7 linked regions of the Homo sapiens genome follow. The protein of the gene in region 1 interacts with the protein of each later gene in a pairwise test. Each region holds a gene or a part of one and is shown on either strand. Other genes may lie near its edges. The genes, in order: GOLGA2, SUDS3, PSMA4, EFCAB6, ITPKB, UBE3C and SYNPO2L.

Region 1 (3,500 bases):
ACCATGGCCCCAGCTGGATGGCGCTCCCACCACCCATGGGGCTGCAGCCTCTTGCCTGTTGAAGCAGGAGTTCCGTCATCTCTAACTTCTTTTGCAATTCTTCCAAGTTAAGCTGCATGCCAGCCTTCTCAGTCACTAGGACCCGAAGCTTCTCTTCCAATTCTGATTTCTCTTGCTTCAGGTCCTCATTGCTTTGGCTATGGCCAGAGGCAGTAGAGAAAGGAATGAACGAAGAACAGAAAGGACTGCTTTGGTGATCCACCCTCTACCCTTGCCCCACAACCACAGAACTGTGGCACTGGAAGGAACCCCAGGAATCAAAAGTCACATGTACAGGCCAGAGAAAAGATACGAGTTACCCAAGGCTACACCATGAGTCAGTGGCACAGCTGGCACTAGAGCTTTGCTGGGCACACATGCACACCTCTATGACTACCTCATCATGCTTACCTGTACCCCCCACCTCCCAGCACACCACCCATGCTGAGGGCCCCCAGACCTCCCATCCCACCATCCCCCATCCTACGTGTTCTTGTATAACTCCAGCCTGAGGGCGTCTCTCTCTTTGGTTAACTCCTTGTTGTACTGTAAATACAGAAAGGTTAAGTCAGGATATAGCAGGCAGAGGAGCAGCTGGCCAACCAGTAACAACAGCTACAGTAAGTACTCCACAGTAACACTTCCTCACTCTCAATCACACTTGACATGTTTTCAAGGCATTTCCAAGCCCATGGTCTCATTTTGTTGTTGCTGTTGTTGTTTTTGAGACAGAGTCTCCCTCTGTCACCCAGGCTGAAGTGCAGTGGTGAGATCTCAGCTCACAACCTCTGCCTCCCTGGTCCAAGTGACTCTCCTGCCTCAGCCTCCTGAGTAGCTGGGACTATAGGCGTGCACCACCATGTCCGGCTAATTTGTTTTGTTTTGTTTTTTCTGAGATGGAGTCTCTGTTGCCCAGGCTGGAGTGCAGTGGCGCAATTTCGGCTCACTGCAAGCTCCGCCTCCCGGGTTCATGCCATTCTCCTGCTTCAGCCTCCTAAGTAGCTGGGACTACAGGCCCCCGCCACCACACCCGGCTAATTTTTTTGTATTTTTAGTAGAGACGAGGTTTCACTGTGTTAGCAAGGATGGTCTCGATCTCCTGACCTTGTGATCCGCCCGTCTCAGCCTCCCAAAGTGCTGGGATTACAGGCGTGAGCCACCATGCCTGGCCTAATTTTTTTATTTTTAATAGAGAGGGGGTTTCAACATGTTGGCCAGGCTGGTCTTGACTCCTGACCTCAAGTGATCCGCCCGCCTCAACTTCCCAAAGTGTTGGGATTACGGCACCCGGCTGGTCTCATTTGTTTTTAAAAAAACTTGGTAAGGGTGGCCGGGTGCGGTGGCTCACGCCTGTAATCCTGGCACTTTGGGAGGCCGAGGGGGACGGATTACGAGATCAGGGGATCGAGACCATCCTGGCTAACACGGTGAAACCCCATCTCTACTAAAAAAAAAAAAAATACAAAAAATTAGCCAGGCGTGGTGGCAGGTGCCTGTAGTCCCAGCTACTCGGGAGGCTGAGGCAGGAGAATGGCATGAACCCGGGAGACAGAGCTTGCAGTGAGCCGAGATGGTGCCACTGCACTCCAGCCTGGGCAACAGAGTGAGACTCCGTCTCAAAAAAAAAGGACTTGGTAAGGGTGGAAGGAACAGGGAGAGAGAGCGAATTTATGTATGTACGTATGTATGTATATATGTATTTATTTGAGATGGAGTCTCCATCTGTCACCCAGGCTGGAGTGCAGTGGCGCCATCTTGGCTCACTGCAACCTCTGCCTCCCGGGTTCATGTGATTCTCCTGCCTCAGGCTCCTGAGTACCTAGGATTACAGGCATGCGCCATCATGCCTGGCTAATTTTTGTTATTATTTATTTATTTATTTATTTATTTATTTATTTTCAGACAGAGTCTCCCTCTGTCACCCAGGCTGGAGGGCAGTGGCACGATCTCAGCTCACCGCAACTTCCGCCCCCGGGTTCAAGCAATTCTCCTGCCTCAGCCTCCCAAGTAGCTGCAATTACAGGGGCACGCCACCACACCTGGCTAATTTTTTGCATTTTTAGTAGACACAGGGTTTTGCTATGTTGGTCAGGCTGGTCTCGAACTCCTGACCTCAGTTGACCCACCTGCCTCGGCCTCCCAAAGTGCTGGGATTACAGGCATGAGCCACCACACCTGGCCAAGATCGAATTTACAGCTGGCTAACAGAGGCCCAGAGAGATCAGATAATATTGCTATTGTTATTATCATTATTACTACCACTGTTTGAACCTTTATTGAATGCTTCACCAGGCACCATGCTAACAATCCCATTTAATCCTCATAACCACCACATGAGACAGTTACTATTATTACCTCTATTTTGTAGATGGACAACACGGAATATTAGAGGTTAAGTGCTTGCCTAAGATCACTTAGACAGAGCTCGGATTTGAACACCCAGGTATATCTGACTCTCTAAGCTCATTTGTTCCCCGAGGGTGGGGGCACAAATAGGAAGGGGGAAATTATCTTTTGTTCAGTTTTTGAAAGGATGATATATTCAGATAGTCCAAAACTCCGAAAGGGCAGAAGGGAAATATCTTCCAGCCGTGCTGTTCCTCTCTCCTGAGTTTGTTATGAATCCATGCAGACACGTTTTATGTATATTGTCATAGTACATAGGTACACATACACACACACGTTCCCTCTCTCTACACAAATGGTAACATACTAAAGATACTCTTCTGTACCTTCACAGTACAAGTACCATATTCCCCCACCTAGGACTTGACCAAGGCCACAGCCAGGTAACGGCACAGCGGGCACTTGGCCTCCGAGCTCTGCGTCCAGTGTTCACTCCCCACAGTGCCCCCAAACTCACCCACAGCAGCTGACTCAGCCCCAGGATGCCTCTAGCAACCACACACAAAAGCAGTGATAAATGGCCCATGCTGCCTTCTAGGCAGGACAGTCAACCCTGCAGAAGGGACCTTTAGGCTCACTCCTCCATCTGGGAAGCCAGTATGCCAGGGGACGGGGCAGGCAGTTGGACTCACCCTGTCTGCCTTCTTCTGCTGCGTGGAGACAGCAGAGAGAGCCCGCTCCAACTCTCCCACACGCCGCCGGGAATACTGCAGGCGGCTGGCCAGATCTTCAGACTCTCCTGGAATGAGAGAGGTTGAGATGGGGCCCAAAGGACTCCCCCTAAAGGCCTGTCAAAGTGCCAGGTTGAAGGATGATGGGGTGCCCAGATTCCCACCTTCTTTCTGCCTGGCAGCATGCTGAGTGTGAGCCAGGGCTGTCTGTAACTCAGCTTTCTCTGATACGAGGATCCCTATGGTCTGAATGTGAACCTTTGGGAGGAAACCCAAGCAAGTGCTGAAAAAGAAGGAAAGAAACATTCTCCAGAGGACAGGACGGAACTTCACACCCTCCACTCACCTGTAACTGCTCCCTTAGGGCTCCCTGCTTTTGGTGGC
Region 2 (3,500 bases), on another chromosome or scaffold:
ACATTTTTAAAAAGGGAGGGACAGAGACAGGAAGTAAAAACCAAACAAAACAAAAACACCATCACAACAAAAATTATAATTAAAGAAGTCTTAATAATTCACATTTGAGGAATAGCCTGGATTTCCCATTTAGCTTAATTTAAAGGCTTCCATCCTGAGGCCAGGCGCGGTGGCTCAAGCCTGTAATCCCAGCACTTTGGGAGGCCGAGGCAGGCGGATCACAAGGTCAGGAGATCAAGACCATCCTGGCTAACACGGTAAAACCCCGTCTCTACTAAAAATACAAAAAAAGTAGCCGGGCATGGTGGCAGGTGCCTATAGTCCCAGCTACTTGGGAGGCTGAGGCAGGAGAATGGTGTGAACCCGGGAGGCGGAGCTTGCAGTGAGCCGAGATGGCGCCACTGCACTCCAGCCTGGGCGACAGAGCAAGACTCCATCTCAAAAAATAAATAAATAAATAAATAAATAAATAAAATAAATAAATAAATAAATAAATAAAGGCTTCCATCCTTAGGTTAGAAGACCACCTAATCTTCTTTGGGATCTAAAGCTTATATTCCTTGGTCCCTCTACAGAAGGGAAAAGGCTGAGGAAAGTGTTGGAAAACTATGTATTTTTCCCTTTTTTTGGACTATATGACCCAGTTCAAAAAGTAAATTAAAAATTGTTAAATAAAAACTCTGTTTCCCCTTTCTGACCCCACACCAGAACACTGAAGAAGGTTGGACAGACAAAATATACAGGCATAAGCCACCGTTATTTATTTTCTATTTGTCCAAGTCAGTCACCAACAAGAAGGAAGGCTGACTTTAACCCTTTAGTCAGTCATTCAAAAATACTCATTAAGCACTTACTGTGTACCACGGACTATGCTGGAGGCTGGGGACAAACAGTGAGAAAGGCCACAAGTTCTCCACTATCACAGAGATTCAAATACACTGGGGATAAGGAACATTAAATAACCACACCTGGTAACAGCTAATCAGGCAAAGTTCCAAGTGCCATGACGTATACCAAAGGGTATCTAATTTGGCCTGGACAGTTGGGAAAGCTGCTTTGAATACAGTAGATAAGACAGACACTCCCCTTTCAACTCCTGCATCTACTCTCAACCTGTAGTGTAGGGCCACTTCTTATTTCTACAAGTTCAGAGACAAGGCCAAGGATGAAAGTGAAGTTGCTGGGGGCCAAAGCCCAAATGGGACAAAAGCAGCTGCCACAGGATGAAGGAGCCCCTGCTGGATTACAAGAGTTGGAAGTATCAGCGGAGCTGCAGCTAGCAACCCTGGCCTGGGCCAGCCCCACGTCGATTAATAACATAAACTTTGGTTCATTTTGGCTGCAAAGATCTGGCTAACCAGACCCATAAACTCGTGTAAATTTAGTAAAACACATCTCCCAGCAAAGCATGATGGCTTATTCTGTTTTGCTGGTATAAGGAAATAACCTATTGCCAAGACATGGCAAGTAAAGGATGCACTTCACTCCCATAATGAGCTTTTTCCAGTCTAGGGTCTCAATTCTCTTTAACCTGCTACTTATGAACTGAAAACTCAGGTTTCCAAGTCAATGTACTTTCTGAAAATACTGTTAAAAGAAACAGAATTTTAGGCCGGGCGTGGTGGCTCACGCCTGTAATCCCAGCACTTTGGGAGGCCAAGGTGGGCAGATCACAAGGTCAGGAGATCGAGACCAGCCTGGCCAACATGGTGAAACCCCATCTCTACTAAAAACACAAAAATTAGCCGGGAGTGGTGGCAGGCTCCTGTAATCCCAGCTACTCGGGAGGCTGAGGCAGGAGAATTGCTTGACCCCGGAGGCGGAGCTTGCAGCAAGCCAAGATCATGCCACTGCACTCCAGCCTGAGCAACAGAGCGAGACTCTATCTTAAAAAAAAAAAAAAAAGAATTTTAAATTCAATTAGAACAGCGAGAATGGTTTAAATGCAAGTTTTAAAGTTGCTTTTGGCCCTTTATTAGTTGGTAAACTGGCAGGGGACCTTCATTATGCTAAATATGTATTATCACAAGGGCCGAACTGTACAATGCATAAGAAAAGGCTAAGTTCATACTAACACTAACACTTCCCCTTGTTTCTCTCTCACATCTGAGCCAGCTCTCCTATGTAAACAGTCATGTCTTGAGTAATGGTTAAAATAAAAATACAGAGGGAGAATACTCACAGTTGTTCTAAAGGGACTGTAAGTTATTAAAGAGATAAAGACACAAAACAAAATGCAACTACCCTCAAGTCATTCTGATACAACTTTCTAAACACTTTAATAAAGAAAGGTCATGGATGTGGTGTAGAATATTACGAGTGTGGAAACATGCTCCATATACTGGTAGGTAAAAAAAAAAAAACCAAAAAAAACTATGTCAACTATGTTCCTGTGTTTATGATAAAACATACACATGTTACAGCTGGGTGCAGTGGCTCACGCCTGTAATCCCAGCACTGCGGGAGGCCGAGGTGGGTGGATCACTTGAGGTCAGGAGTTCAAGACCAGCCCGACCAACATGGTGAAACCCCCATCTCTACTAAAATTACAAAAATTAGCCAGCATGGTGGTGTGCGCTTGTAATCCCAGGTACTCGGGAGGCTGAAGCACAAGAATTGCTTGAACCCAGGAGGCAGGGACTGCAGTGGGCTGAGATCATGCCACTGCACTCCAGCCTGGCTGGAAGAACGAGACTCTGTCTCAAAAAAAAAAAAAAAACTGGCCAGGTATGGTGGCTCATGCTTGTAATCCTAGCACTTTGGGAGGCCAAGGTGGGTGGATTGCCTGAGCTCAGGGGTTCGAGACCAGCCTGGGCAACAAGGTGAAACCCCGTCTCTACTAAAATACAAAAAATTGGCCAGGCGTAGTGGCTTACGCCTGTAATCCCAGCACTTTGGGAGGCCGAGGCGGGTATATCACGAGGTCAGGAGATAGAGGCCATCCTGGCGAACATGGTGAAACCCCGTCTGTACTAAAAATACAAAAATTAGCTGGGCGTGGTGGCGGGTGCCTGTAGTCCCAGCTACTTGGGAGGCTGAGGGAGAGAACAGCTTGAACTCGGGAGGCGGAGGTTGCAGTGAGCTGAGATGGCGCCACTGCACTCCAGCCTGGGTGACAGTGCGAGACTCTGTCTCAAAAAATATAAATAAATAAATAAAATACAAAAAATTAGCCAGGCATATTGGCGTGTGCCTGTAGTCCCAGCTACTCAGGAGGCTGAGGTAGGAGAATCGCTTGAACCTGGGAGGCGGAGTCTGCAGTGAGCCAAGATTGCGCCACTGCACTCCAGCCTGGGCGACAGAGCGAGACTCTGTCTCAAAAAAAAAAAAAAAACCAAAAATAACACATATACATGTTACATGTGTATCCATGTATCATATCCTCACAAAGGTCTTTTAAAGAAAACAGCTGACTCTGGAAGGCTATTCCAACAATTCTCATGAGATGCATTGTATTTTCCTTCAGTGGTACTTAGAACCCAAACCCAAGAAATTCAACT
Region 3 (3,500 bases), on another chromosome or scaffold:
TGGGAGGTCAAGGCAGGAAGACCGTTTGAGCCTGCAGTGAAATATGATCACGCCACTGCACTCCAGCCTGGGTGACAGAGCAAGACCCAGTCTCAAAAAACAAAACAAAACAAAAACATTCACGTAAAGAGCTGTTGGCTGAGTTCTATGTTAATGAATCCACAATACACATTTAAAAAGGTGTCTTTAAGTAGAAATACACAAAAAACAGGTTATGTACTGATCAGTTGATAAAAATGTGACCAGTGGCTTGTAGGACCCTAACCCAGTACTTTCTCTAGGTGCAAGAGTTCAGTATTTTGTTAGTTTTTGTGGTGACTTTAGAACATAACTACCAAAAATAACGAGAACCTGCTGTACAGAGTAAGAGAATAATTTAGAAGTTCAAAAAAGTGCTGCAAATAGGGCTTGTAAATACTTTAGCCTATACAGAAAACTGCAGGGAGCTGCATTAAGAAAATCTACAATGAGAAATTAGACTGGGAGCACATATTTGGTTGACAACAGCTGAGAGAAGGGTAAATGATGGCTCAATGCACTCACCCTAGCTGATGGAAATCACCTGAAGAGTTTAAGCAATGTTAATATCTGGGTTCCACCACAGAGCTTGAGTTAATCGATACAGCATGCTTACAAGCTGCAAAAGCTTCCTAGGTGATTCTAATATGCAACAAAAACTTCTTAAAGTTTTACTTAGCATTCCTAAGAATCACATGCAGAGCTTGTTAGAACAGATTACTGGGTTTCACCCTCAGAGATTTTAATTCAGTAGATCTGGGATGGGACATCAGAATCTGCATAGGTGATGCTAAAGCACCATGGCTACGCATTAAGTACCACTGCCCTGTATCACTTCTGTCATGAAGCCACAGATAGCCAAGGGAACTCAGGTTGAACAAACCCCAGCAACAGAGCTCCCTTCAGCCAACACGTAACTGTTCTCATCTCTTGGTTCCACTTTTCCTCTGTGGCCTTAACTTCTACACCTCATCTTCCGCGCAGCTTGAGCTGCTGCCTGTGGGCAGCCTCAGTCCTAGCTGCGAGATCCACACCCACACATCAATTCTGGCTTTGTTCAGCTCACGTGTTCATTCTCAAACCAATTCCTGCAGACAGAGACGAATAATCTGGCCAGCCTGAGGAACGTGCCCATCTTTGTGAAAGGACTGTAAGCCACAATGTGCAAAAAGTAATCGCCCTGTCAGTTTTTGTATATTTAACAATTACTGCTACAGAGAATTTATTCCTTCATTTCCATTTTCCAAATTTTATTCCAAAAAAAGGGGATGTGTGTGGAAGATTAAGACGTCCATGAAGGGTAACCATCATCGTTACAATAAAGTATTCAATTGGACAGAAATGACAAGGACCCAATTCAGTATGTAATGTCCTATTTTCCCACTGCACCAGTTAAAAAAAGTAAAGCCTTCCTAGTGTGGAAGAGTAGGACTGCTTTTACACTGAAATGGTGCCCCAAATGAGTAATAAAATCTCTGATTCTATTTATCCTTTTCTTTCTGTTCTTTTTCTTTCTTCTCACGCTCAGCTTTGGCTTCTTCTTCCTCATGTTTTTTGATCAACTGCTCCACTTCTTTTTGTTTGAGAACTCTGATTACTGTCTTTCCATTCTCTCTTGTTAGTGTTGCAATTTCCACTAAAAACAAACACATACATTTATTTGTATTGCAGGCAGGCAGGCATACTTAGCAGAGAAGCTTAATAGGCACTCATGGTTTATGCTCGCCACATCATTGAAACGTTAGTTCAGCACTCTCCTATGTTTTATACTTAACATTATTCCCTTTTATGAGAACAATATACTTTTGATCTTGTAATGTTTTAATTATAATTTTTACTTAAATATCGTCTCCTCAGCCATTTTGTCACTCCCTTAGAAAAAGTATAATCAACCAATTGCTATTGCCGGCCTGCTATTAGCTGTGCTGATTAGACGGAACTGTTGGAACCTCTGAGGGCTCAGCCAGAATCTTCAACTGGTAATAACAGCTTATTTTTTATGGACTTTTCAAGTCTCTTAAAAAAATAAATAAATAAAAGGCATGAAATGGCCAAGAAAAGCAGACTGATACCTAAAGGGGAAGGAATTTTTTTGTACCAGGGAAACTGAGTAGTGCTTCCTTGAAACTGGGTGGAAGTAGACAAAAGAGGGCAATCTGCATGTAAATGACATTTTCTTTTTCTTTTTTTTTTTGAGATGGAGTTTTGCTCTTGTTGCCCAGGCTGGAGTGCAATGGCGCAAACTCGGCTCACTGCAACCTCCACCTCCTGGGTTCAGGTGATTCTCCTGTTTCAGCCTCCTGAGTAGCAGGATTACAGGTGCGCACCACCACGCCCGGCTAATTTTTTGTATTTTTAGTAGAGGCAGGGGTTTCACCATGTTGGCCAACCTGGTCTTGAACTCCTGACCTCAGGTGATCCACCCACCTCGGCCTCCCAAAGTGCTGGGGATTACAGGCGTGAGCCAATATGCCCGGCCGTAAATGGCATTTTCTAAGGAACACCAGGAGCTAAACTGTCCTAACATAAAGCAACATGTTAATTTACCACAATTTCTGAAAAACATTTAGAAATATTCTTTTTTTTTTTGAGACAGAGTCTCTCTCTGTCACCCACGCTGGAGTGCAGTGGCATGATCTCAACTCACTGCAGCCTCCGCTTCCCAGGTTCAAGTGATTCTCCTGCCTCAGCCTCCCAAGTAGCTGGGATTTATAGGCATGCACCACCATGCCTAGCTAATTTTTGTATTTTAAGTAGAGATGGGGCTTCACCATGTTGGCCAGGCTGATCTGGAACTCCTGGCCTCAGGTGATCCACCCACCTCAGCCTCCCAAAGTGCTGGGATTACAGGCATGAGCCACCAAGCTCGACTGAAATATTCTTTTATATAGTCATATAGCTTAAGTTGAACAAGGTATTTGGAATTGCTAACATGAGCTTAAAATAAGAGATTAGTAGATTAAGAAGAACAGGAGAGGGTATCACAACCCACGCAAATGTTGTATCTCTGGTAAAGTATACCAAACCTATGTATAAATATATAACTACATACGTATGCTTTATCATATATACACACAAGCAAAGATATCATTGATGAGAAGACTTGATAACTGTTAACTAAAAGTAGCACAGTGCAGGATGTCTATCTGTGAGTAATGAGATTGTTCAGTATCAAGCCTTTAAGTTTGGAATACAGTGTGAGATTGTGACTCCACAATTTACCAATGTTGATCTTGGTCAACTCACTTAACCTCATTAAGCCCTAGTGTCCTCAGTTAGAAGACAGGGATAACATCACCTAATTCGTAAGGTTGCTGTTTCAATGAACTAGGATGACATGTTAAAATCTTAACAGTTGCTGGCTGGGCGCAATGGCTCACGCCTGTAATCCCAGCACTTTGAGAGGCTGAAGCGGGAGGATCACCTGAGGTCAGGAGGTCATGACTAGCCTGGCCAACATGGTGAAACCCCGTCTCTACTAA
Region 4 (3,500 bases), on another chromosome or scaffold:
TGCAGCCCTAACTTGGGGCAGAGCCTCAGGGTGCGCCCAGGCAGGGGAGGGCAGGGCCAGTGGGTGCTGAGTGCAGAGAGTTGCTGTGATAAGACCGTAACAGAGCCTGGAGCAGAGCCTGCTGGTGGTAAACCCAATACTGACTGCCCCTTCCTCTTCAGTTATAGAACCTGACTCTCTCCCAGCTCCTCTGTATCCAGCTAACCGGGAACATGTCTCAGCCTCTCTTGCAGCTAGGTATGTTCTGGCCTGAGAAGCTAAGTAAGAATGTTATGTAGAACATCCAGGAAGCCTCCTTTAAAGGAGAGGGGCATGCCCTTTTCTCTCCTGTTTTTCCACCTGCTGCCTGGAATATGGCTGTGATGCTGGGGCTCCAGCAGCCACCTTGGATCATGAGGTGGCCTAGAGGAAGGAAGCCAGGAGTTGAGAACAGCAGAGCAAAAATGTGGTCCCTGATGATTGTCCAGCCACCACACCAGCTCTGACCTTCCTACCTCTGGACTTCTTTTATGTGGGAGTGAAATAAACTTTCACCTTAAGCTGCTATTTTCCCCGCCCCATTATGTGAAGCTGAAACAAATCCTGACAGACCCTCATAGTATATAAAGATGAGGCCATACATTTCCTATCCACATTTGCGTTATAACTTGTTTCTAGGAGGAGACTGGAAAGCAGGGCTAGATGGCCCAGAGGTCCTATGGGGCTGAGGTCAGCAGGCCTGGCCATTGGGCCCCATGGGATGAAGGCAGAAAAGGAAGCTGAGCCTGGTGTCTGAGACGGCCCCTCAATTACGCCATCTGATCTGTGACTCTGTGGAGGGCAAGGTTTCTTTTGCCACCTTCCCAGCACCACGCCCGAATTCCTGGGAAGTTGCCGGAAGGGAATAACAGAACCTGCCCTACTTCCTTCCTTTCTTTGCATGAGGGATAGGGAGAATCCCTGACTGAGATTTATACTTAACCCCGAAGGAAAGAGGAACGTGAATGTGGATTGGAAAACCACTGCGGGGTGTTTGTTAGGCTCTGGGGGTGGGACATGGAGGGCACCCAGGGACATCAGGGCAGATGCCCAATGGTGGAGCCCCGCTGTGTACTGCAGGGGCAGGGCTCACTTTGCAGGCCCCTTGGAAGGTCCAACATAGGTCAGAGATGCTCTTCAGAGCCTGCAGGAGAGCCCAGGTGTGGGGAGAGGGCTCGGAGCAGCAGCAGCAGTGATGGCAGTGCCTTAAGGAACCTGGGCTCAGGCACTGACCCTGAGGAGCTGGCGATGCAGGTATGGGGCATCCACGCAGGGCTCCAGCAACCTTTGGGAAGGAGAACCCGGGGTCTGAAGGTGAGGCGAGTGGACCCAGGACTGGATAACTTGGGGGTCCCAGGGAAGTGAGATCTGAAGCAGCCAGGTCACACCGGGCCTTCGGCAGCAGGTAGAGGGCTCCCCGTGGGAAGTTTCTGGCCGCTGGCATTTGGCAGCTGCTCCCTGCAGAGGCACTGGGCGCAGAGCTGTGCTCACCGTCCTGAAATCTGCGACGCTTAGCAGCCCTGTTCCAGCCTCATCATAGCTTTTGAACGTGCGCCGCATTGGCCTCCAGCAGTGCACAATTTTGGGCTGAATACGCAGCAGAGCAGAGTAAAAAGATGGCGTCTCCGCGCCGGCTTCTTTCTAGACACAAGACAAGAAGGGGTGAGGAGGGAGCTTTTGAACACGAGGGTTGGGGTGGGCTCCTCCTCGCCTCGCCCCCGCCTCGCCCAGCCCTGCTCCGGCTTCACCTCCCAACCTGCTCCGCTGGCTCTGAATCGAGGAGGGAGCCTGCCAGAACTCGTCACAAAGATGCGCACCCGCCCCCTGACCATTGTGTGGGCTGTTTAAAAACGTGTATTACATCAGCCATCTCATTTACACCTCCCCACTGGCAACCCGGAAAGAAGGCAGGTCTCTATCCCCACTTCACAGATTAGGAAGTGGAGACTCGGGGAGGTAAAGTGACTTGGGCTTTGACCCCAACACACTTCAGGCCACACCACCTCCCAGGGAATGCAACGAGATGGCCGGGCAGATATGGGCCAATTTGAAAATAGTTTGAGGAAAAAAAGAGATTTCAGTCTGTGTTTTCTAGTAAGTTATTATAATGAACAGTGTTAAAAAAAATTCACAAGGTTGTAATTATATCTAGTAATTAGAACACTACACTGTGATTACTTCATTTAGGTGCTATTAGATTGAAAACAAGACATTTGAACATGATTTAGCCCCAATGTGTTTGAATATCACAAAGGTGAACGGTAGGCAACAATGCGTAACACATCTTGGGAAAGTTGAATTTTAACATAACACTATGTAAGACAGATGAGCACAGGGTTAAGCTGCTTTCATTTTTTTTTTACATCATTTGGCACGTATGATGTGTGCTCCCCAGGTACCCAAGACTTCATGAGCTGCCAATTTGCCCAATCAGCTGATCCACAGGTGGGGAAGAGAGGGTGTGGGGCTCACATGACCTCCCACACCACACATCACAGGGCAGGACCACCAGCCCGGCCAGAGCCCCCACCTCTGACCCACCTTGCAGGGAGGGGCGGCACCCAAGCTGCCTTCCCCCGAGGACATCTTTCTGCTGCCTAATGGGGTGGAGAAAGCTCCCAAATCACCAGAAAATGAAGTCCCCTTTTTAGCTCCTCTGCAGGGAGACATTTGACCTGACCTCCACACTTACATGGTGGTGGCCTTGGCAGCTGCCAGATGGGACAAGGGCTGTGACCAGGACCATGTCAGGAGCCTACTCTCTCCTGAAAAGCCTTCAATCTCAATCCACTCCGGTCTGGTGCAGGGATTTGAGGAGTGGGGGCGGGAGAACTCTTCGGAACCACAGAGTGGTGCCTTGGGAGGGGCGGGGGGAGAGTGCCACAGTCTCTGTGGGCTGACCCGCAGCACCTAGCATGACCCCACTCTGACCCCAGCTTTGCGGGGTTGCTGAGGACGGACAGTGCAGCTGGAAGCTGGGAACTGGGGTGGCCCCTTTCACTGGGGAGGGCTCAGAAGGCGGCACTGGTGTGCTCTTCCGCAGAAGCCCGTGCACGTCCTAGCAAGGTCTTAGAGCCTCCACAGATCTCCAGAAGGAGAAACTGAGGCCCAGGGAGGCGGAGGAAGGATGGAATTGATGGCGGCCTTGCTGCCACGTGTCTCCATGTTCTCCACGTTCGTGGCTCCCGTGAAGATGGAATGGGGACAGTCTTTTCTCTGTGCACAGAAGAACTGAGCTGGCAGAACTGTCTAAAGTCTTTTTTTTTTTTTTTATTGTAAACTTGGTCTAAGCTTTTGATACTAGCTCCTGTTTGTCTAAACTAGAAGCTAGGCTAAGATGGAACCTGATTTTGCACAAAATTGCAAAACTAGCTGTGAAGAAACTTTCTGCATGGCATCTACTTAACTGTGGCTGGCTTAACCCACTCTCCATTCCCTAGAGTCTCACCACTGTGGCCCAGGCAGGTGTGGCCCTTGGGTGG
Region 5 (3,500 bases), on another chromosome or scaffold:
GTTGCTTCATTTAAACCTCAGTTTCCTCATCTGTAAAACAGACTATAAATCTTTGTTCAGGGAATTGATCTGGGTAAAACGGGAACTCCGATGGGCGTGTTCAGCCCCAGTCTAGCTTAGAGTAAGGCCCCAGAAGCGATCGCTGCACCGGAGACCCCCCTACTTGGGGACAGTGCTTCTTGGTTGATGTTCTAGTCTCTGAGCTACTATTTCAAAGTTTCATGAGGGTTGAAAAGACTCATTTTGGAGAGTGGTTTATATTCTTTACAAATTAAAATGTTACCCAGTCTGACACCCACTCCCCTAACAGCCCCCATGTGGGCCCTCTAGCTTCCTAAGACTCCCCAGCCTGCCCCTCAGCCAGGTCTCAGGGCTGGGGGCCAGAAGGATCACACCACAGACAGCGCTGGTCTCCAAGGCTTTATTCAGGAAGGTTTGCATCTGTTTGACAGGCACTGTGCAGGGGTTTGTAACAGTTCAGTTTTCTCCAAGGTCCCATGGGGAGAGGGGTGCAGAACAGGAAGAGAGCCTCTCGGCAGGCGGGGGGGGTCCTCTCCTCCAGAACAAAAGGCACTGACGAGGTGACCACCCCAGAGCCAGGGGCTGGGTTATATACACATGGGGTGGACAGATGCAGAGAAACTCAAAGCTAAATACAACTGAAGGATGAAAGAGTCCATCTTACAGGGCCAGGGCTGCTTCTGGGCTCTTTCTACCAAGTGGGAAAGGAAGTTCAAAACAAAGGCAAAGCTTTCAAGGAGAAACAAGAGTCCAGCCTTTCGGTCTTAGTGTTCTGTGCAATTTTAAAACCCAACAAAATAAATATAACTTAAAAATGTCTTACATGACACTAAAGGCAAGCCTGGGAAAAGCAAGCAGTTGAAGAAACCTTCCGAGAATGCTAAGCAGTGCTGAATGCCAGGAACTCGTGGGGCCCCCCGCAGGACAGGGCAAGAGGACCCTGCGCCCATTCACCTGGGCACAGGTACACAGAGTTTGTCCTGCCTGCTGGCACATGCACTGCCAGGACCCAAGGAGTCCCTGTGGTGACGAGGGCTGGGCAGGCACGGTCTTCCAGGCTGCCAGGGCAGGGGTTCTGGGAGATTCCATTTCACAATCCATCTATCCCACTGAGACAAAGGGAAGGGCCAGATGGCAGGGAAGCGAGTGGCAAAATGGCTTGAGAGACAGAGTAGGTGTAGAAGAGAACTAGCACGGTAAATACAAAAAAAGAGAAAAAAAAAACAGAAAACAAAAACCCTAAGTAACAGAATAACCCTAAAATGATGCTACTTCATACTATGTTCACATATTTAATGTAACCCACAGCCAAGTATTGCCAATAAGAGGCCCCATGGGCCTCCTTTAATAAGCACATCATTTGCATATTAGCACATTGTTTGCAAACAGCTGGTGTCTGCCTAAAGTGCTTGGAACATTTTGTTCTCTTAAACAGGTCCCCTGTAATTTTTGTTCATATCATGATTTGCTTTAGCAAACTTCTTTCACAGATGGAGTAAGGATAACTTTTGGCCAGTCCATATTCATAGAATCTTTACGTCTGAATTAATGATGCCCCTGCCCTGCAAATGGCTGAAGCACAGACCACCAGGGTCCCTTCTAGCCCAAAAGTCACTATAGCTCCAGAGGCCCAGAGTTGACTTTGGCTCCCCAACGCCCCCGTCCTGCCTGCCTTCCAGATCACATGCTGCCACGAGGTCTCTCGTGCTCCACCGGGCGCGTGTGTGACCTTTAGCAAGTCGGCCCACACAGGAGCTCACCACTGTTTTAAACAAGAGCCAGGAAGTGTAAGTTGATTTCCTTTTTTAAAATCTGTACTTATACATCCTCATGTGTCCCACCCTCCACCCCCAGCAAGTGTCACTCACACTTCCAGCACAAAAGGGGAAATGTACATGTCCCGTGGGCAGGTTGACAGTTCCCCAGAGACCCCGGGGTGGTGGGGTGGGCAGTGGTTCCTCCAGACACACACACCTTGGTCCATAGTCTCCCTCTGTGTCCCTAGCTCCTGGACTCTCCCAGCTCCTGTACCTCTGACAGCAAAGGAGTGGGTGGCAAGCCCCAAGGAGCATGGGGCACAGAGCTGGGGGTTTTGTTCTTAAGAAGTCAGGCAAATTTTACATTCCCTTCCATATCAGACTCACTGGCTTTCAGTTAAAATTGGGCTTAAATAGGTTCTCCACGAATCTCCAAATGCAGAGACTTCAGGAAGAGGTGCCTGGAGCACGCCCTGGCATCCACCACATACCCTACAAGATACCCACACTACATTGGAGAAGCAGGAATCTAAGCCCTCCAGGCAGTAAGGCTTGTTTCAGAGGCAATAACAAATGATGCCAGGAGGCCACCGCGGCACCTCTGGAAGCCAGAAGCCTGCCTTCTTCCTGCCTGGCGCAGACCTGAGCTCCTCCCCTATTTCTATATCTGCAAGGGACTCTGGGCCCCATGACAGGAGCCCATGTATGCAGGCAGGGTTGACCAACTAGCACCAGGTAGGTGAGGGTCAAGAAAAATGTGCTCCTCCCTGGGGCCAGGGCCCAGAGACTCTATAGATCCCATCTTCCCCTGGTAGCACCCTTGGAGCTCAGCATGGCAGAGTGTGCCTTCTGAACTCATGGGTTGCAATTCCAAGTGGCACAGCTTCTGCTCGCCTCCTCTGGGAAGGCCTAGATCAGAGAACACAGCCAAGCTGGCTTCAGCCTTCTCTTGGCTCCTGGGTCTGGCCTGGAGCCGGCAGGTTTCCATACCAGATGGGTGGGGGGCCTTGCCTGAGCAGCCCTGGAGAGGCCACCAGGGCATCCCTGAGGCTGCTAATCGGAAGACACTTTGCTCACAGTCAACATGTGGTTCCCCGATGGTTTTGTGCCCCAACTACCAGAAAGCCCTGCTCCCAGCCAGGGACCAGGAACCCGGCCGGCCCCCTGGGCTCTCCGGTGGGGAGGCCCCGGCAGAAATAAGGCTGTGCTTGGCAGCACTCTAACAGCACTGGCCGCCAGGGGGCAGCAGGCCTCCGCAGGTGGTAGGTCCAGGCTGGTGCTTCCTAGGGGGCTCCCAGAGGCAGGGCTCATCTGGTAGGGTCCCCTCAGCAGCCAGGGACCCCCTCCAGCTCTACACCTGACCCACCTCTAAGACTGGGCATTTCTCTTCTAGTAGGTGACCCTCTCTACAAAAAGCAGTGCAAACACCACCTCCAAGCCCTGAAGTTAGGAAAATGACTAGAAACTCTCATCTCCTCTTCTACAAAGTGTCTTGTAGTGCAGTTCAGGAGGGTCAGTCAGGTGTAAGTGAAGGAAAAGTTAGGAACGAGAAAGGAAGCACAGGAGGAGGAAAGGAGGCCCAGGCGGGGGCCAGGGAGGGCGTGGGCAGCTCAGGCGAGTGGGGCATCCTGGGACATCTCGGTCAGGATGTCGACGAGGTTATTGAGCCCCGAGAGGTAGCCATCCTCCCGGTTCCCCTCCTGCCAGGGGACGTCATGCTGC
Region 6 (3,500 bases), on another chromosome or scaffold:
TCAGAGCCAGGCTGGGGTTGGGTAGTGGCAAGCCTGGAGTTCCAGCTCCTCAGGAGGCTGAGGCAGGAGAATCGCTGGAGATCAGGAGTTTGAGGCTGCTGTGCACTATGATCATGCCTGTGAATAGCTACTGCACTCCAGCCTGGGCGACACAGTGAGGCCCTGTCTCTTAAAGGAAAAAAAAAAAAAAAAAAGAACTAATTTGATCTTAGAAAATATTTTGACTTTATTTGATGCCAGATCTGTAAGAAAAAGTTTTTATGTTCCACTACAATGTATATGGAGCATTATACTATCACATCCATTACACCTCTGCTTTTTAAAACAAAATAGCACAAAACATTTTAAGTTAAAATATTCTAGGTAATCCCTTCAATTATATAATAGAGGGCAGTTTTACAAAACTAGGTAATCCCTTCAATTATATAATAGAGGGCAGTTTTACAAAACTAAGCAATCAAGTTCTTACCATCTTAACAGTCTAGACCTATCATAGGGGAGGAATTAAAACTAGAGTAATTGAGGCCAAGCATGGTGGCTCACACCTGTAATCCCAGCACATTGGGAAGCTGAGGTGGGCAGATCACTTGAGGCCAGGAGTTCAAGGCCAGTATGGACAACATGGCGAAACCCCATCTCTACTAAAAATACAAAAAAATTAGCCAGGCCTGGTGGTGGGCGCCTGTAAGCCCAGCTACTTGGGAGGCTGAGACAGGAGAATCACTTGAATTCGGGAGATGGAGGTGGCAGTGAGATCGCACCACTGTACTCCAGGCACTCCAGCCTAGGCGACAGAGGGAGACTCTGTCTCAAAAAAACAAAATAAAACAAAAAAACTATAGTAATTGGTTTTGGTAGGCCCTAGAGTATCCTCATTCCATAAGGCCAGTATCACCCTAATACCAAACCAGACAAAGACATCACAAAAACACCCTAAATTGATGTCCCTCATCAAAAGAGATGCAAAAATCCTGAACAAAATATCAACAAGCTCAATCTAACATCGTATACAAAGAATTATGCATCACAGTCAAGTGGGATTTATTCCAGATACGCAAGACGGGCTCAATATTCTAAAATGACTTAATGTGATCCATCATATCCACAAGCTGCAGAAGGAAAATCACATAACATTAACAGATACAGAAAAAGCATCTGACAAAACCCAACCTTCATTCATGATAAAATTCTGCAAACTAGGAATAGAGGGGAATTTCCCCAATTTGATAAAGAATATCTACCAAAAAACCCACCAAACATCATACTTCATGATGAGAAACTCAAAGCTTTCCCACTAAGATTAAGAACAAGGCAAGTTCTCACCACTCCTTTTCAACTATAATCCTACCTAATGCAGTAAGACAATAAAACACATTGCTTTCTGATGGTCTTAGAAAAGAAAAAAGAAAAAAAAGGCATACAGATCAGGAAGGAAGAAATAAAACTGTCTTTGGTTGCAAATGAAATGATTATCTGTGCAGGAAATTCCAAGTATCAACCAAAAAACCACTCCTGGAACTAAGAAGTGATTATAGCAAGATTTCAGGACATAAGGTTAGTACATGAAAGTCAATTGCTTCTCTACAAATAAGCAATGAACTGGAATTTGAAACTGAAACACAATACCATTCACATTAGCACCCCTTAAAAATAAACGCTTAGGTATAAATCTAACAAAATAGGTATAAGGTATATATAAGGAAAATTATATAACCAATGAAAGAAATAAAAGAACTAAACAAATTAAGAGATATTCCATATTCATGGATAGGAAGGCTCAACACTGTCAAGATTTTAGTTTTTCCCAACTTGATCTACCAATTCAGCACAATCCCAATCAAAATTCCACAGGTTTTTTTTGTGAATATCAACAAACTGACTCTTATGGAGAGGCAAAAGATCCACAATAGCCAACACAATACTAAAGAAGAAGGAAGTCGAAGGACTCACACTACCAGACTTCAATGCTTACTATGGTTGGGCGCGGTGTCTCACTCCCGTAACCCCAGCACTTTGGGAGGCTGAGGCAGGCGGATCACTTCAGGTCAGGAGTTCAAGACCAGCCTGGCCAACATGGTGAAATCCAGTTTCTACTAAAAATACAAAAATTAACCAGGTGTGGTGGCACATGCCCACCCAGCTACTCAGGATGCTGAGGCAGAAGAACCACTTGAACCCAGAAGGCAGAGTTTGCAGTGAGCCGAGGTCACAACACTGCACTCCAGCCTGGGCAACAGGAGGCTCCCTCTCAAATTAAAAAAAAGTTTAGTTTAATATATATACTAAGTAGTACAGTTTACTACAGATCTGTTACAGTAATCAAGATGGTATGGTATTGACAAAAGGGAGAGAGATCAATGGAGGAGAGAATAAAGCCATAACAGAGCTTAGAAACAGATCGTAAAGGCCGGACGCAGGGGCTCATGCCTGTAATCCCAGCACTTTGGGACGCCCAGGCGGGCAGATCACGAGGTCAGGAGTTCGAGACCAGCCTGACCAACATGGTGAAACCCCCGTCTGTACTAGAGTAGCCAGGTGTGGTGGTGCACACCTGTAATCCTAGCTACTCGGTAGGCTGAGGCCGGAGAACTGCTTGACAGAGGTTGCAGTGAGCCGAGATTGCGCCACTGCACTCCAGCCTGGGAGACAGAGCGAGACTTCGTCTCAAAAAAAAAAAAGAAATAGATCCATAAAAATATAGCCAACTGATCTTTGACAAAGGAGCAAAGGCAGGCATTCAATGGAGTTGGGGAATGTCTTTTCAGAAATGGTGCTAACTGGACATCCACAAACAAAAAAACTTCAAAAATTAAAAATCTAGACACAGATTTTATATCCTTCACATAAATTAACTCAAAATGGATCAGAGACCTAAATGTAAAATACAAAATTATAAAACTACTAGAAAATACGAGAAAATCTAGGTTACCTTGGCTTTGGTAATGACTTTTTAGACACAACGCGAGAAGCAAGATCCATGAAAAAAACACTGGTGAGCTGGACTTCATTAAAATTCAATAGTTCTCCAATGTCACAAATGTACCACACAGATACAAGATGTAAATAACAAAGGAAACAGCGTGCAGCGGAGAGGAGGTTTTGAGGACTCTATTATAGTTTCCCATCAATTATTCTGTAAACCGTAAACCACTCTAAAAAAAAAGCTTATTAATTGATAAAAAATAAAGTAAAAAGAAATGAACTGTCAAGCCATGAAAAGAGCCTTAAATGCATAGTACTAAGTGAAAGAAACCAATCTGAAAAGATTACATAGTATATGATTCCAACTATATGACATTCTGGAAAAGGCTAGAGTAGAAACAGTAAAAAGATCAGTGGTTGCCAGGTGTTACAGGGATGGGAGGGATGGATGAATATGCAATGAGGATTTCTTCCTTTTTTCTTTTTTAAAAGAGTATCACTCTCGTCACCTAGGCTGGAGTGCAATGGCGTGATCTCAGCTAACTGCAATCTCTGCCTCTCGGGTTCAAGCAATTCTC
Region 7 (3,955 bases), on another chromosome or scaffold:
AGGTCGGAGGGGGCCATGGGGTAACAGCAGAGCCTCAGCTGGGGGTGGCTGAAGGGCTGCCCCATCCTCCCAAGACGGGGAGCTCACACGGCTGTCACCCTGGCTGGGAGGGCCAGGGATAGTAGGTGCTGGCTCTGCAGGGCTGTCAGACAGGTAGACCTCATCAGGTGGGGCACCCGGAGGGGTGGGCCTTGTGGGGCCTCGGCGGCGAGGTCGACGGGGCTTCTCCTGGGTGGCAGGGCCATCAGCATCACTGTCAGTCTCTCCGTAGTAAGCCTCACTATCAGGAGGTGAACGAAGGCTCCCAGGCTGAAGAGGCTGAGGAACTGGAGCACCAGGGGGCTCAGGACTTAGTGGAGATAAGGGTGACAGCACCTGAAGCTCATGGGGAGATGGAGATTGCACAGGACCCTCGTCTGCTAACCTGGATAGGAAAGATGACAGAGCTTGAGAGATGGGCTGGGTACTGACAGCTAGAGAGATCTGGAAGGGATGGAGGGAAGAGGTAAGGGGGAGGGAAGAGGTAAGGGAGAGAGAAGGCTGTCATACAGTTGGAATGGGTGGGCCGGGAAGAGTGGAGATATGAAGACAAACTGGGAGGCAAATGTGCTTGAAGGGCTGTGAGTGGAAATAGGCTTAGAGGAAGATGTAATGAGGAGGAAACAGGCCAGGGGTTGAAGTAGGCTCATCAGTCAAATACCCACTGACATCCCCATCCCTTAATTGCAGATACATTCAAGCCCTCTGGGAGGCAGACACAAACCATCTGCACTCCAGCAGAAACGCACGAGCAGAAATAGGTACCTGTTAGTTGCTAAAGCCAGGCCAGTGAGACATAGAGCTGAGACAGGCAATGGGAGCCCTGGATTAGGGGAAGAGAAGAGGAGAGAGGTCCATACCGCTGCACAGTGAGGACAAGCTGATTTCCTGAGGCATCGATGAGGCTCATGGCACTGGCATGGGAGAGGTTGGTGCAAGAGACCCCATTGATTGCCAAGAGCTGGTCCCTCTCTCGGAGTCCTGCTCTGCCAGCCTGGCTCCGTCTTCGAATCTGAGATGTTGAAGGAGACACTGTAGGTAAGAGGGGGCTCCAAAGGGAATAGAATGAAAGGAAAAGATGGGAAGGACCCACAGGAGGGGATTTTACTTTGCAGGGTAAGAAGGGTGGGGAGATGCATGGAAGTGGCTGCAGTTGAAGTGGCCTGTCTAGAGGGAAGAAAGTATACAGACTGGAGAAAGAAATACATCATATGGTGGGAAATAGGGTAACCATTGAATGAAAGAGGCTTGGGAAGAACTGCATGGGGTAGGTAACTAGAAATGGTGGTTATTGGCTGGGTGCAGTGGCTCACGCCTGTAAGCCCAGTGCTTTGGGAGGCCTAGGTGGGTGGATCACTTGAGATCAGGAGTTTGAGACCAGCCTGGCCAATGGGTGAAACGCTGTCTCTACTAAAAGTACAAAAATCAGCTGGCCGTGGTGGTGTGCGCCTGTAATCCCAGATACTTGGGAGGCTGAGGCAGGAGAATTGCTTGAACCCAGGAAGCAGAGGTTGCAGTGAGCCATCATGTCACTGCACTCCAGCCTGGGCAACAGAGTAAGACTCTGTCGCAAAAAAAAAGAAAAGAAAAAAAACGGAAAGAAATGGTGATTATCTCCACAAGCTTTTTCTCCAAGGGCAATATCTATATTGGCTGGTAATTCTCTACTAGGCCTTGTAACCCCAGGCGCCATTACACAGTCAAGATTTTAGAACAGTACTCCAGGTTGGAGGGAGTCCAGCGGTATTCTGGGAGATTGTGATTATTTGGGTATATGTGTGCCATGTATACACACAAATGTATATATGCCAAAGTAATAATAGTAGTAGTGGCTACCATTTATTGAGTTCTTACTAAGTGTTGGGCACTGTGCTACATGTATTATTGCATTTAATCCTTAGAATGGTTCCATGAAGTAGGTACAGGTACTATTATTACCCACATTTTACAGTTCGGAAAACTAAGCCTGTAGGGTGAAACCAAAAGGATAATGACTTCATCTGTGAGGCCAGATCTTGCCATAACCCTCCTAGCACCTAAAAAAGTCTTGCCTAGTGAGAGAAAGGATCTGACCTAGGGAAAGAGCACTGAAGGCATGGGCAGGGCAGGGTGAGGCAGGGTAGGGCTGGGCTGGGCTAGGCTGTTCGAGGCAGTTTCAGTTCATCACATATCAGTTTAGTCAGAGAGAAATTAGAACCTTCCCCGTATTTCTGGAGTTTGGAGTAGAGGCACATACCCAAGAGAACAAACACTGGATGACCAGAGCTGGGCCTCTGATACCACAGTGCTGCAGGGAACTGAAGCAGAGCCTTTCCTTTTCCTCTGCTCCCTGGAAACCGCGAATTCTCTTTTCTAATAGACCCCCACAGGAAGCCTGTGGTCAGACGCTACTCCCACTATGAGACTTGAGCATACTTCCCTGCCCACCACCCACCCCATCTTCACAGCCTCCCACCCCCCCAACCCCCGCCATATGCCACCACACATCTCTTCCCAGGATCCCTTGGGTTCCCTTTCCCTGAAGCCTCATTTCAGGGGCTCTCCCTTACCTTAGACACCTGTAACGGTTTCCTCTGCTCGGCCCCCCCATGAAGTCGGAAGCCCCAGGGGGCTCCCCCTGATAGTGTGACCAGCACCTCCTCCTCAGCACCCATCGCTCAGCTTGGCCTATGGCCCCCGGAGTTTGAACAGTGTCCCCAGGAGAGAAGTTGAGGTGCTCGAACCCCGTCTGGGCTTCCTGTCCGGCTGTCCTGCTCCTGCTGCCCCAGGCCTCCCCCCCACACCACACACCACAGGCAGGCAACTTGGCCCTGGGATCATTACAGTCCAGCACACATGTCCCGTCAATCGCAGATGTGCTCAAAATAGATGCCGCTTGTACTCCCCTCCCTCCCCCTTCTGTGTTACTCCTAGAGCTAATTATAGTACAAACTTCTGCCCTCCATGTTCCCAATTCTCCTGCATGGGCCTTTTATTCAGGACTCAGAATACAAACTCTCTGGGCTCTATAACCAATGTACACCCTTTCAGGAACTGTGCCTTCTCTAATAGGACCATGGGCTAATCTCAACTGCTTTCCTCCAAAGACCCTTTCAAAGTGGCAGCAGCAGGGGCTTCAATTCCATAGCTGGCAAAGAATGGCTGGGCTTGCTCCAAGATCCCAGGAAAGAATGCACTCTCGCTATATAAATTTATCTGTTAATTAATAAATGGTGGGCCAGGCATGGTGGCTCACGCCTGTAATCCTAGCACTTTGGGAGGCCAAGGTGGGTGGATTGCTTGAGTCCAGGAATTTGAGACCAGCCTGGGCAACATCGTGAGATGGCCCCCCATCTCTATTTTCTTATTATTAAAAAAAGTTAAAAAAAAAAACCAAAAAACTATAGGCTGGGCACGGTGGCTCACACCTGTAAACCCAGCACTTTGGGACCAAGGTGGGCGGATCACGAGGTCAGGAGATTGAGACCATCCTGGCTAACACGAGGAAACCCCGTCTCTACTACAAATACAAAAAATTAGCTGGGCTTGGTGGCAGACGCCTGTAGTCCCAGCTACTCTGGAGGCTGAGGCAGGAGAATGGCGTGAACCCGCGAGGCAGAGCTTGTGGTGAGCCGAGGTCGTGCCACTGCACTCCAGCCTGGGTGACAGAGCGAGACTCCGTCTCAAAAAAAAAAAAAAAACAAACAAACAAACAAAAAACTATAAAAAAACAAATTACCTATTGCAATACATACGTGGTCATGGAAAGGTGTGTAGGTGTGCATAAACATACCAACCCATGTTAATACAATCTCTACTTGTCTCTAGGTTTCCATTACGAGAATGTCTCTGTTACAAGGCATAACATTATGGTGCTATAACTGTGATTATCAAAGGCTACAGAGTTTCATAAAATAGCTGCCCACCTAGTGTATGC

Evidence for each region.
Region 2: the proteins of GOLGA2 (region 1) and SUDS3 interact in binary tests that used the Homo sapiens proteins (3 or more experiments, as listed by UniProt).
Region 3: the proteins of GOLGA2 (region 1) and PSMA4 interact in binary tests that used the Homo sapiens proteins (3 or more experiments, as listed by UniProt).
Region 4: the proteins of GOLGA2 (region 1) and EFCAB6 interact in binary tests that used the Homo sapiens proteins (3 or more experiments, as listed by UniProt).
Region 5: the proteins of GOLGA2 (region 1) and ITPKB interact in binary tests that used the Homo sapiens proteins (3 or more experiments, as listed by UniProt).
Region 6: the proteins of GOLGA2 (region 1) and UBE3C interact in binary tests that used the Homo sapiens proteins (3 or more experiments, as listed by UniProt).
Region 7: the proteins of GOLGA2 (region 1) and SYNPO2L interact in binary tests that used the Homo sapiens proteins (3 or more experiments, as listed by UniProt).

Annotation. Positions count from the first base shown.
Region 1 is NC_000009.12:128,262,508-128,266,007, forward strand, and holds part of GOLGA2 (golgin subfamily A member 2), read right to left. Parts: coding exon 3,463-3,500; intron 3,375-3,462; coding exon 3,281-3,374; intron 3,185-3,280; coding exon 3,078-3,184; intron 586-3,077; coding exon 527-585; intron 198-526; coding exon 56-197; intron 1-55. UniProt on the Homo sapiens protein: Peripheral membrane component of the cis-Golgi stack that acts as a membrane skeleton that maintains the structure of the Golgi apparatus, and as a vesicle thether that facilitates vesicle fusion to the Golgi membrane.
Region 2 is NC_000012.12:118,407,555-118,411,054, reverse strand, and holds part of SUDS3 (sin3 histone deacetylase corepressor complex component SDS3), read right to left. Parts: intron 1-3,500.
Region 3 is NC_000015.10:78,546,944-78,550,443, reverse strand, and holds part of PSMA4 (proteasome subunit alpha type-4), read right to left. Parts: intron 1,655-3,500; coding exon 1,500-1,654; 3' UTR 1-1,499. UniProt on the Homo sapiens protein: Component of the 20S core proteasome complex involved in the proteolytic degradation of most intracellular proteins. This complex plays numerous essential roles within the cell by associating with different regulatory particles.
Region 4 is NC_000022.11:43,529,306-43,532,805, forward strand, and holds part of EFCAB6 (EF-hand calcium-binding domain-containing protein 6), read right to left. Parts: intron 1,660-3,500; coding exon 1,510-1,659; coding exon of another isoform or gene 1,252-1,509; intron 1-1,251. UniProt on the Homo sapiens protein: Negatively regulates the androgen receptor by recruiting histone deacetylase complex, and protein DJ-1 antagonizes this inhibition by abrogation of this complex.
Region 5 is NC_000001.11:226,631,283-226,634,782, forward strand, and holds the end of ITPKB (inositol-trisphosphate 3-kinase B), read right to left. Parts: coding exon 3,389-3,500; 3' UTR 408-3,388; downstream 1-407. UniProt on the Homo sapiens protein: Catalyzes the phosphorylation of 1D-myo-inositol 1,4,5-trisphosphate (InsP3) into 1D-myo-inositol 1,3,4,5-tetrakisphosphate and participates to the regulation of calcium homeostasis.
Region 6 is NC_000007.14:157,145,426-157,148,925, reverse strand, and holds part of UBE3C (ubiquitin-protein ligase E3C), read right to left. Parts: intron 1-3,500. UniProt on the Homo sapiens protein: E3 ubiquitin-protein ligase that specifically catalyzes 'Lys-29'- and 'Lys-48'-linked polyubiquitin chains.
Region 7 is NC_000010.11:73,653,230-73,657,184, forward strand, and holds the start of SYNPO2L (synaptopodin 2-like protein), read right to left. Parts: upstream 2,801-3,955; 5' UTR 2,694-2,800; coding exon 2,589-2,693; intron 1,078-2,588; exon of another isoform or gene 1,052-1,077; coding exon 900-1,051; exon of another isoform or gene 810-899; intron 425-809; coding exon 1-424. UniProt on the Homo sapiens protein: Actin-associated protein that may play a role in modulating actin-based shape.